2 separate regions of the Homo sapiens genome follow, and region 1 is linked to region 2. Evidence: fine-mapped expression QTL. A gene starts in region 2. The other region holds a variant in brackets. All regions are shown on one strand. Distances are between the middles of the regions.

Evidence for each region.
Region 1: its variant is fine-mapped to the expression of GNA15 in whole blood (TOPMed, PIP above 0.99).

Annotation. Positions count from the first base shown.
Region 1 is chr19:3,160,343-3,165,717 of GRCh38, forward strand. GNA15 (G protein subunit alpha 15) reads left to right here. Exons shown (of 7, transcript NM_002068.4): 7 at 2,451-3,407. The coding sequence ends at 2,677. Among named protein-coding and RNA genes, the nearest start is that of GNA15-DT, 7.9 kb to the left of the region's middle. RefSeq lists enhancers at 2,109-2,403, 2,207-3,068, 3,069-3,929. The variant C/A (reference allele first, on the strand shown) is at 3,120.
Region 2 is chr19:3,133,399-3,138,773 of GRCh38, forward strand. GNA15 (G protein subunit alpha 15) reads left to right here and starts at 2,635. Exons shown (of 7, transcript NM_002068.4): 1 at 2,635-3,197. The coding sequence starts at 3,053.

The DNA of each region.
Region 1 (5,375 bases), 27 kb after region 2:
CTCTCTGTCTCCATCTGGGGCCTCATGATCCACAGCCTCTTCACATGGTTTGAGCTTACTCACAATATGGCTGCCTCAGGGTAGACAGACTTCAGCCCAGGTGGAAGCTGCTTCTCATGATAGCCTCAGAAATGTCAGACGTTACTCTGCCACATTCTATTTGTCAAGCACATCACTCATATCAGCCCGGATTCAAAAGAAAGAGACTCCATCTCTTGAAGGCAGCATGACACATGCATACAGGGAGGGAAGGAAGTGACGGCAGCCATCTTGGAGATAACTTGCCTTCATGTCCTGGGGATGCCGTAACAAAGTACCACAAACTGGGTGGCTTAAAACAACAGGAAACAACAGAAGTCCAAAGTTAAGGTATTGGCAAGGTTGGTTCCTTTTGGAGGCTCTAAGGGAAAATCCATTCCATGCTTCTCTCTCAGCTTCTGGTGGTGGCCTACAATCCTTAGCTTGTAGACATATCACTGCAATCTCTGCCTCCATGTTCACATGGCTGTCTTCTCACCATGCCTTTATGTGTCCTCTCCTGTTGTTATAAGGCCACCAGTCATTGGATTTAGGGCCCATACTTTGGTATGACCACTTTTTTTTTTTTTTTTTTTTTTTGAGACAAGGTCTTGCTCTGTTGCCCAGGCTAGAGTCCAGTGGTGTGATCACAGTTCACTGCAGCCTCAACCTCCTGGGCACAGGTGATCCTCCCACCTCAGCCTCTTGAGTTGCTGGGACTACAGGCGCACACCACCACACCTGGGTAATTTTTGTATATTTCTGTAGAGACAGGGTTTCGCCATGTTGCCCAGGCTGATCTGGAACTCCTGGGCCCAACCACACATCTGTCATCCACCTGCCTTGGCCTTCCAAAGTGCTAGGATTACAGGCGTGAGCCCTCATGCCTGGCCATGACCTAATTTAACTTAACTAATTACATCTGCAAATATCCGATTTCTAAAAGTCATATTCTGAAGTTCCAGGTGGACATGAATTTTGGGGGACACTGTTCACCTCAATATACAAGCAACCATAGTAGATGAGTCCTTAGTACATGCTTGACACCAGGTCCACAATCAGTAAACATAAACTTTGGTGAAGTCACCAGGTTTTGATCCCTGGTCTTGTCATGTCTCAGAGCCCATGAGGCCAATTTTAGCCAATTATACCCACAAGATTCAGGGTCTGGGAGATAGACGTCAAGTTGTTCCAGGATGGTGGCCTGGATAGCCCCTCTTCCTTGCCAAGCAGCCCTGGGAATCAGCTCATAGTTTAGAGAATTTGGGAACAGGATAAGGTAGATATTTTTTTCATTCAGGTCAAAGGGAACCACCCATGACTCATCCTTGTCTCCCAGCACAAGTGACTGGTGCACTCTTTGCTGACTCCCAGCCCTACCCTCCACTGTGCTAAATAATATTTGTGATAATAATAAGAAACCACACTTTGGGAGGCTGAGGCGCGCAGATCGCTTTAGGTCAGGAGTTTGAGACCAGCCTGGCCAACATGGCAAAGCCCCATCTCTGTTAAAAATACAAAAATTAGCTGGGTGTGGTGGCGGGGGCCTGTCATCCCAGTTACTCGGGAGGCTGAGGCAGGAGAATCGCTTGAACCCAGGAGGTGGAGGTTGCAGTGAGCTGAGATCATGCCACTTCACTCCAACCTGGGTGACAGAGTGAGACTCTGTCTCAAAATAATAATAATAATAATAATGATAATAATAATAAAATTGATAACAGCAGCTAACACATCTACCGCACTGGTGGAAGCACTCTACAAAGCTTCTTTAATCTTCATGTTAAAACCCTATGCAGGGCTGGGCACAGTGGCTCACGCCTGTAATCCCAGCGCTTTGGGGGGGTCAAGGCGGGCTGATCATTTGAGGTCAGGAGTTCGAGACCAGCCTGGCCAACATGGCAAAACCCCATCTCTACTAAAAATACAAAAATTACCTGGGCATGGTGGCAGGCGCCTGTAATCCCAGCTACTGCCAAGATTGCACCATTGCACTCCAGCCTGGGCGACAGAGCGAGGCCCCATCTCAAGAAAAAAAAAAAGAGGACTCTCTTCCCCTCGTTTGGCCTTGATGCCGCCATCTTCACAGTCCTGGGATATTTGTCTATGCGATTCCAGTCTTCCAACTGCACTGGCTGTAAGCGAGGCCAAGAGAGTGTCTCTCTTTAACACAGTTCTGCCCGAAGTCCCAGAGCTGGGTCTCATTGGTCCATTTCAGGTCACATGACTCGTGTGAGACAATCTCCTGTGTTCCCATTGGCTGGGCCGGAGTCGTGTGACCAGCTATGACTACAAAAGATGGAGTCAACGCACAGAAAAATGACAGGCGCGATCCCTGGGTCCCTTCAGTGCTGGTTACAGGGAAGAGGGTCTCCAGAGGCCCCCTGGGTCCAAAGAGGGAGGGTCCTCACCCCCTTCCCACACTGTTTCCCCAGGCCCTAAGCAGGATGCTGAGGCAGCCAAGAGGTTCATCCTGGACATGTACACGAGGATGTACACCGGGTGCGTGGACGGCCCCGAGGGCAGCAAGAAGGGCGCACGATCCCGACGCCTCTTCAGCCACTACACATGTGCCACAGACACACAGAACATCCGCAAGGTCTTCAAGGACGTGCGGGACTCGGTGCTCGCCCGCTACCTGGACGAGATCAACCTGCTGTGACCCAGGCCCCACCTGGGGCAGGCGGCACCGGCGGGCGGGTGGGAGGTGGGAGTGGCTGCAGGGACCCCTAGTGTCCCTGGTCTATCTCTCCAGCCTCGGCCCACACGCAAGGGAGTCGGGGGACGGACGGCCCGCTGCTGGCCGCTCTCTTCTCTGCCTCTCACCAGGACAGCCGCCCCCCAGGGTACTCCTGCCCTTGCTTGACTCAGTTTCCCTCCTTTGAAAGGGAAGGAGCAAAACGGCCATTTGGGATGCCAGGGTGGATGAAAAGGTGAAGAAATCAGGGGATTGAGGACTTGGGTGGGTGGGCATCTCTCAGGAGCCCCATCTCCGGGCGTGTCACCTCCTGGGCAGGGTTCTGGGACCCTCTGTGGGTGACGCACACCCTGGGATGGGGCTAGTAGAGCCTTCAGGCGCCTTCGGGCGTGGACTCTGGCGCACT[C/A]TAGTGGACAGGAGAAGGAACGCCTTCCAGGAACCTGTGGACTAGGGGTGCAGGGACTTCCCTTTGCAAGGGGTAACAGACCGCTGGAAAACACTGTCACTTTCAGAGCTCGGTGGCTCACAGCGTGTCCTGCCCCGGTTTGCGGACGAGAGAAATCGCGGCCCACAAGCATCCCCCCATCCCTTGCAGGCTGGGGGCTGGGCATGCTGCATCTTAACCTTTTGTATTTATTCCCTCACCTTCTGCAGGGCTCCGTGCGGGCTGAAATTAAAGATTTCTTAGAGGCTGCGTCGCCAGCGTCCTGTTTATCCCCTCTGCATTCCTTTCTCGGCTTACGTGTCCCGGGGGCAGTGCTTACAGTGCGGGGAGCAACGTGGAGTAGGAAGGAAAAAAGTTATACTTCTTGTCTACCCACCTGTCCTGGCCATGGTACCCAGAACTGTGGAGGCTGTGAGTCCCGCAAGCCGGGACGTGGAGTCCAACCTCCCTCCCAGGCTGGGGGGGACATTGAAGCAGACTCCTCCGTGGCTACTGACCTGAAATTCCAGTAGCAGCCCCCACCCAGCTTTGAGAAGGCCTCTTACTATCCTCAGGGCAGTGTTCTGGGGTGCAAGCCGTAGCACCCCACTTTACAGGTGAGGAAACCGGGGCGCAGAGAAGTGGAGTAATTTGACTAAGCTCACACACCTGGAATTGACAGAGGCAGGAGCCTGTTCCTACGTTGAACACATTTGTGGTTTTTTATTTGTTTGTTTTTTGAGACAATCTCACTTGGTTGCCCAGGCTGGAGTGCAGTGGTGCGATCTCGGTTCACTGCAGCCTCTGCCTCCTGGGTTCAAGTGATTCTCATGCCTCAGCCTCTGCAGTAGCTGAGATTACAGGCACCCGCCACCACACCTGGCTACTTTTTTTTTTTTTGATGGAGTCCCGCTCTGTGGCCCAGGCTGGAGTGCAGTGGCGCAATCTCGTCTCACTGCAACCTCCACCTCCCAGGTTCAAGTGATTCTCCTGCCTCAGCCTCCTGAGTAGCTTGGACTACAGTTGTGTGCCATCACACCTGGCCATATTTTTGTATTTTTAGTAGAGACAGGGTTTCACCATGTTGGCCAAACTGGTCTCAAACTCCTGACCTCAAGTGATCCGCCTCCCTCGACCTCCCAAAGTGCTGGGATTACAGGCATGAGCCACCACACCTGGCCTAATTTTTCTTCTTATAAAAACACTAGTCACACTGGATCAGGGTCCAGCCTGTCATCCCCATCTTAACTTGATTACATCGGCAAAGACCGTATTTCTAAATAAGGTCCCATTCACAGATACCGGGGGTTATGACTTCATCATATCTTTGTAGGGGAGCCACATTTGAACCTATAAAAGGTATTTTGTAATACAAAAAGGAGCCGGGCGTGGTGGTGCATGCTTGCAATCCCAGCTAATTGGGAGGCTGAAGCATGAGAGTTGCTTGAACCCGGGAGGCGGAGGTTGCGGTGAGCCAAGATCCTGCCACTGCACTCTAGCCTGAGCGACAGAGTGAGACCTTGTCTCAAATAATAAATAAATAAATACATAAATAAATAAATAAATATAAAAGTATGTTATAGAAACCCTCTCCACTGAGTTTGGTCTGACATTTTGCTGCTGGTCAGACTGGGGTGATGGGTTTCAGGGAGGAAGACCTCAGTGGTGACAGCCCTTCTCACCACATCCTATCTTTCTGTTTTTTTTTTGAGACGGAGTCTCACTCTGTCACCCAGGCTGGAAGTGCAGTGGTGTGATCTCGGCTCACTGCAAGCTCCGCCTCCCAGGTTCACACCATTCTCCTGCCTCAGCCTCCCGAGTAGCTGGGATTACAGGCGCCCGCCACCACGCCTGGCTAATTTTTTGTATTTTTAGTAGAGACGGGCTTTCACCGTGTTAGCCAGGATGGTCTCAATCTCCTGACCTTGTGATCCGCCCGCCTCGGCCTCCCGAAGTGCTGGGATTACAGGTGTGAGCCACCGCGCTCTGCCTCTTGTTGTTGTTTTGTAAGAATTTTAGACTCACAGAAAAGTTGCAGAAGTTGTACACAGTTCCCAAATGCCCTCCACCCAGCTTCCTCTTACCTCTTACGTAACCCTAGTACAACCCAGGAAATTCACATCAGCGAGCGTCCTATGAACGAACCTGTGTGTAGACCTTACTAGAATGTGGCGGGTTCTCGCTCCCGTCCTCCTTTCCTGGACCAGGATCCAATCCCGGATCCCACATCGCCATGAG
Region 2 (5,375 bases):
GGTGGGACTGCCCCTCGTTGCTGCTATCCGGTTGGGGGCGGGAAGGTGGGTGGCTGGGTGGGCAGATGGCACCTGCCAGCCCCAGTGACCAGATGGGGGCCCCTATCGTACTTCCCATCTGTCATTCGTTATGAATCAACAGTGGAGAAAACCACACGTTTGTGCTGAGCTGGTGAAGCTGCGTCAACGGCTGTCACCGAGCCCTGGTGTCTGGGAGGAGGTGGGGACGGTGGCTGCCAATGGCTGTGTGGCCCTGGGCACGTAATTCGCCCTCTCTGTGCCTTGCCCTATCTGTAAAGGGACCAGAGGCCCCCGAAGTACAAGAATTACGTGTATCTCTTGGGGAGGAGAGTTTTGATCCAGAACTTTCTAGAATTTTCTACAGCCTGTCAATGGGGGTGGGGAATCTTCACCCAAACACTCTGGCTCTGAGTACCTAGGAAGCAGCAACGTTTCTACCAAGCTGCCAGCCACCAGCCCACCCCTAGGGCCCTGAAGTCCCAGAGGGATCAGGTCAGGGCGGCCTCATGGCACTCATTGGGAAGATCTCCTTGACCAGTGAGGTCCACTCCCAAAGTCCCTCTTACACCCGATCTGCCTGTCTGACTTCTGATCCTGAATATCACTTGTCTGTGCGACCTTTGTTGATCCATTTAGAGCAATGACCTTGAACCTTCCCCAACAACATCTCTGCTTAATTTTTCTGGCAGAATTTTTCACCATCCAACGGGCTCAGGTGTATTAAAAAATATATATATTTTACACGTGTGTGTATATATATACACACATATATATTTTTATGTATAATATACATATATGTATATTAAAATGTATACTTTTATGTGTGTATATATGTATGTGTATATATGTATGTGTGTCTATATATTGTGTATATATATGTATGTGTATATATGTATGTGTATATACATATATGTATGTGTGTCTATATATTGTGTATATATATGTATGTGTATATATATGTATGTGTGTGTGTGTATATATATACATAGAGAGAGAGGGAGAGTTTTGTTTTGTTTGTTTCTGGAGACAGGGTTTCACTATGTTGCCCAGGCTGGAGAGCAGTGTTATGATCTCGGCTCACTGCAGCCTCCATCTTCGGGGTTCAAGTGATTCCCTTGCCTCAGCCTCCCAAGTAGCTGGGACTACTGGTGCGTGCCAACATGCCCAACTAATTTTTGTATTAGTAGAGATGGAGTTTCTCCATGTTGGCCAGGCTGGTCTCAAACTCCTGACTTCAAGTGATCCTCCTGCCTCGGCCTCCCAAAGTACTTTGATTACAGATGTGAGCTCCCGCACTCACCTGGCCAAATTTTTTATTCTTTTATTTTTTATTTTTTTTGAGATGGAGTCTCACTTCGTCGCCAGGCTGGAGTGCAGTGGCACGATCTCAGCTCACTGCCACCTCTGCCTCCCGGGTTCAAGCGATTCTCTTGCCTCAGCCTCCCAAGTAGGTGGGACTACAGGCGTGCACCACCACGCCCGGCTAATTTTTGTATTTTTAGTAGAGACGGGGTTTCGCCGTGTTGGCCAGGCTGGTCTCGATTTCTTGACTTTGTGATCTGCCCGCCTTGGCCTCCCAAAGTATAGGGATTACATGCGTGAGCCACCAGGCCCAGCCTAAAATTTATTTTATTATCTGTTCTTTAACTAGAACCTTAGGTAAGGAGGTCTGGGATCTGTGTCTCTTGGCTACCGTGCCTGGCACACAGTTGGCGCTCCATGAATGCACGCACAATGAAGGGATGGCCCTGCCTGGAATCTGCCTGGTAGGCGTCTAGACTCTGGGGCCCCGCAGGTGAGGGATAGGCTCCCGGCTCTGCCTTGTGCCAGCCCCACCGGTCACTCCCCTGCTCTATGCCTCAACCTCCTCATCAGTCAAACAGGGATGACAGTAGTAACTATACAGGGTGATGTGAGTGTAAAACCAGCTAATGTGAGCCAAAACCCGGCTAATTTTTGTATCTTTAGTAGAGACAGGGTTTCGCCATGTTGGCCAGGCTGGTTTCGAACTCCTGACCTCAGGCAAGCTGCCCACCTCTGCAGGGTGGATCACCTGAGGTCAGGGCAGAGTCGCTGGAAACAGTCCATGACACCTGGCCTGAGCTGTTTCTTAAAAATATATCAGAAGGGCCGAGCGTGGTGGTTTATGCCTGCAATCCCAGCACTTTGGGAGGCCGAGGCGGGTGGATCACCTGAGGTCAGGAGTTTGAGACCAGCCTGGCCAACGTGGTGGAACCCTTTCTCTACTAAAAATCCAAAGTTAGCCCGGCGTGGTGGTGGATGCCTGTAATCCCAGCTACTCGAGAGGCTGAGGCAGGAGAATTGCTTGAACCTGGGAGGCAGATGTTGCAGAGTCAAGATCCTGCCACTGCACTCCAGCCTGGGCAATAAGAGTGAAACTCTGTCTCAAAAAAAAAAAAAAAAATATATATATATATATATATATATATATATATATATATATATATATATACACATATATATATATACACACACATATATATATGATATATATATAATGTATCAGCAGTAGCACGGGTCTGACGGTTCCTGATTGGCTCCGAGGAGGGGGACAGCTCCGGGTGAAGCCTGAGGAGAATCCGCCCCTTCTCCAGAAGGAGGAAGAAGGGCCCTGCTGGTCACACAGGACCCAGTCTGCGGTGGGGGTTTTCCCGCCACCGCCCCGCCCTCCCTGGGGCCCCCACCTCACCCTCTCCTGGCACCCTTCACCGTCAACCTGTCGGGCCGGGTCTGAGCAGGTCTGGAGGTGGGCGGGGAGCCCTGGCCTCCCCACCTCCTCCCGTCCCCACCCTGTTCCCAGCACTCAAGCCTTGCCACCGCCGAGCCGGGCTTCCTGGGTGTTTCAGGCAAGGAAGTCTAGGTCCCTGGGGGGTGACCCCCAAGGAAAAGGCAGCCTCCCTGCGCACCCGGTTGCCCGGAGCCCTCTCCAGGGCCGGCTGGGCTGGGGGTTGCCCTGGCCAGCAGGGGCCCGGGGGCGATGCCACCCGGTGCCGACTGAGGCCACCGCACCATGGCCCGCTCGCTGACCTGGCGCTGCTGCCCCTGGTGCCTGACGGAGGATGAGAAGGCCGCCGCCCGGGTGGACCAGGAGATCAACAGGATCCTCTTGGAGCAGAAGAAGCAGGACCGCGGGGAGCTGAAGCTGCTGCTTTTGGGTGAGTCCAGGGTCGGTGGGCGGTGGGTGGTGGGCAGTGGGCGGTGGCCAGCCGGCAGGGGTGTCGGGGCAAGGAGGCGGATCAGGCTAGGTCAGACATTGGCATCGTGGAGCCGTCGCCTCCTCCCAGGGAATGGGGAGCCTGGAACCCATTTTCCAGATGAGAAAGACTGAGGTTCAGAGAAGCCAAGTTCCTTGTCCAACGTGCGACCAGCGGCCAGGTGCCCAGGCCTGTCCACTGTGTGGGGCATATACAATAGCAGACGTGGCTCTACCGGGCCCCTGCCGGGCAGGCCCAGCACGCCCTACCTGTCTGTGTCATGGCGAGGGAATGATGAGCTCAGGTGTGCAACCCGTTCTGGCCAGCCCACCCGTAAGGGAGGGGCCGGCTCCAGCCTCTCCTTCACCAGGACGCTCCCTCTCGCCTTTACCTCCCTGCCATGGCTGGAGAGGGCTTGTCTAGGGCTCCTTTGGGGGCTAGAAAGGATGGATTGATTGGTTCATTGGTTCATTCATTCATTATTCATTCATTTAAGATTTATTGGGTAGCTCCCAGGAACGAGGCAGCCAAACAGGGGAAGATATTTCTGTCTTCCTGGATCTCATTTCCTGTGAAGGAGCCAAGACATTTAGTCTGTAAACTCATAAGCAGATAAAATAATTCTGGCAACAAGAATTATCTAGGAGAAAACAAAACAGGGTGATGGCTTCCATGCGGAGGCTTCAGATGGGGGAGTCGACGTCAGTAACGGTTCAAGATTCTGAACTCTGGCTGGGTGCAGTGGCTCAAGCCTGTGATTTCAGCACTTTGGGAGGCCCAGGCGGGTGGGATCACTTGAGGTCAGGAGTTCAAGACACAGCCAGGCCAACATGGTGAAGCCCCGTCTCTACTAAAATACCAAAAATTTGCCAGGCATGGTGGCTCATGCCTGTAATCCCAGCACTTTGGGAGGCCGAGGTGGGTGGATCACAAGGTCGGGAGATCGAGACCAGCCTGACCAACACGGTGAAACCCCATCTCTACCAAAATACCAAAAATTAGCCAGATGTGGTGGTGCGTGCCTGTAGTCCCTGCTACTCGGGAGGCTGAGGCAGGGGAATTGCATGAAACCAGGAGGTGGAGACTGCAGTGAGCTGAGATCATGCCACTGCACTCCAGACTGGCGACAGAGTGAGACGCCATCTCAAACAAATAAACAAACAAACAAAACCAAAAATTAGCTGGGCATGGTGGCACACAGCTATAATCCCAGCTACTCGGGAGGCTGAGGCATGAGAATCGCTTGAACCCAGGAGGCAGAGGTTGCAGTGAGCTGAGATCGGGCCACTGCACTCCAGCCTGGATGACAGAGCAAGACTCATTGTCAATAAATAAATAAATATAAATAAAATAAATAAATAAATCATGCCTGTAATCCCAGCACTTTGGGACGCCAAGGCGGGCAGATCACTTGAGGCCAGGAGTTCGAAATCAGCCTGGTCAACGTGGCGAAACCCCGTCTCTACTCAAAATACAAAAAAATTAGCCGGGTGTGGTGGCATGTGCCTGTAATCCCAGCTACTGGGGAGGCTGAGGCAGGAGAATCGCTTGAAACCAGGAGGTGGAGGCTGCAGTGAGCCAGGATTGCACTATTGCACCCCAGCCTGGGCAACAAGAACAAAACTCCGTCTCAAAAAAAAAAAAATTCTGATCTCTGAAACCTCGGGGTCTTCTCATTCCCGTAGCTTGTTTCCCCAATTACCTTTCCCTGATTATGGCCCCGTTGGCCTAAGCCCGGGATGCTAGCCTGGGAGGGTCTTCTGGGATCCCCGAGCTCTGGGTTGGGGGCTGGAGAAGGTCTCAAGTCTTCTGGACTCGCGTTTGTCTGCCCCGGGCAAAGAGCTTGATCATCCCGTGATGGTTGCTATCGTCCTTTCCTCGTTCAGTGGGAAGAGGCCGCCCGAGAGGAAAGAGAGAGAACATCGAGTGGGATGGTGGGGACCCCCAGGAACTGCACCTTCACTGGGGGCCCTTTCTTTCTTTTTTCTTTTCTTATTTTTATTTTTATTTTTTTGAGACGGAGTCTTGCTCTGTCACCCAGGCTGGGGTGCAGTGGTGCGATCTCAACTCACTGCAACCTCCGCCTCCCGGGTTCAAGCAATTCTCCTGTCTCAGCCTCTTGAGTAGCTGGGATTATAG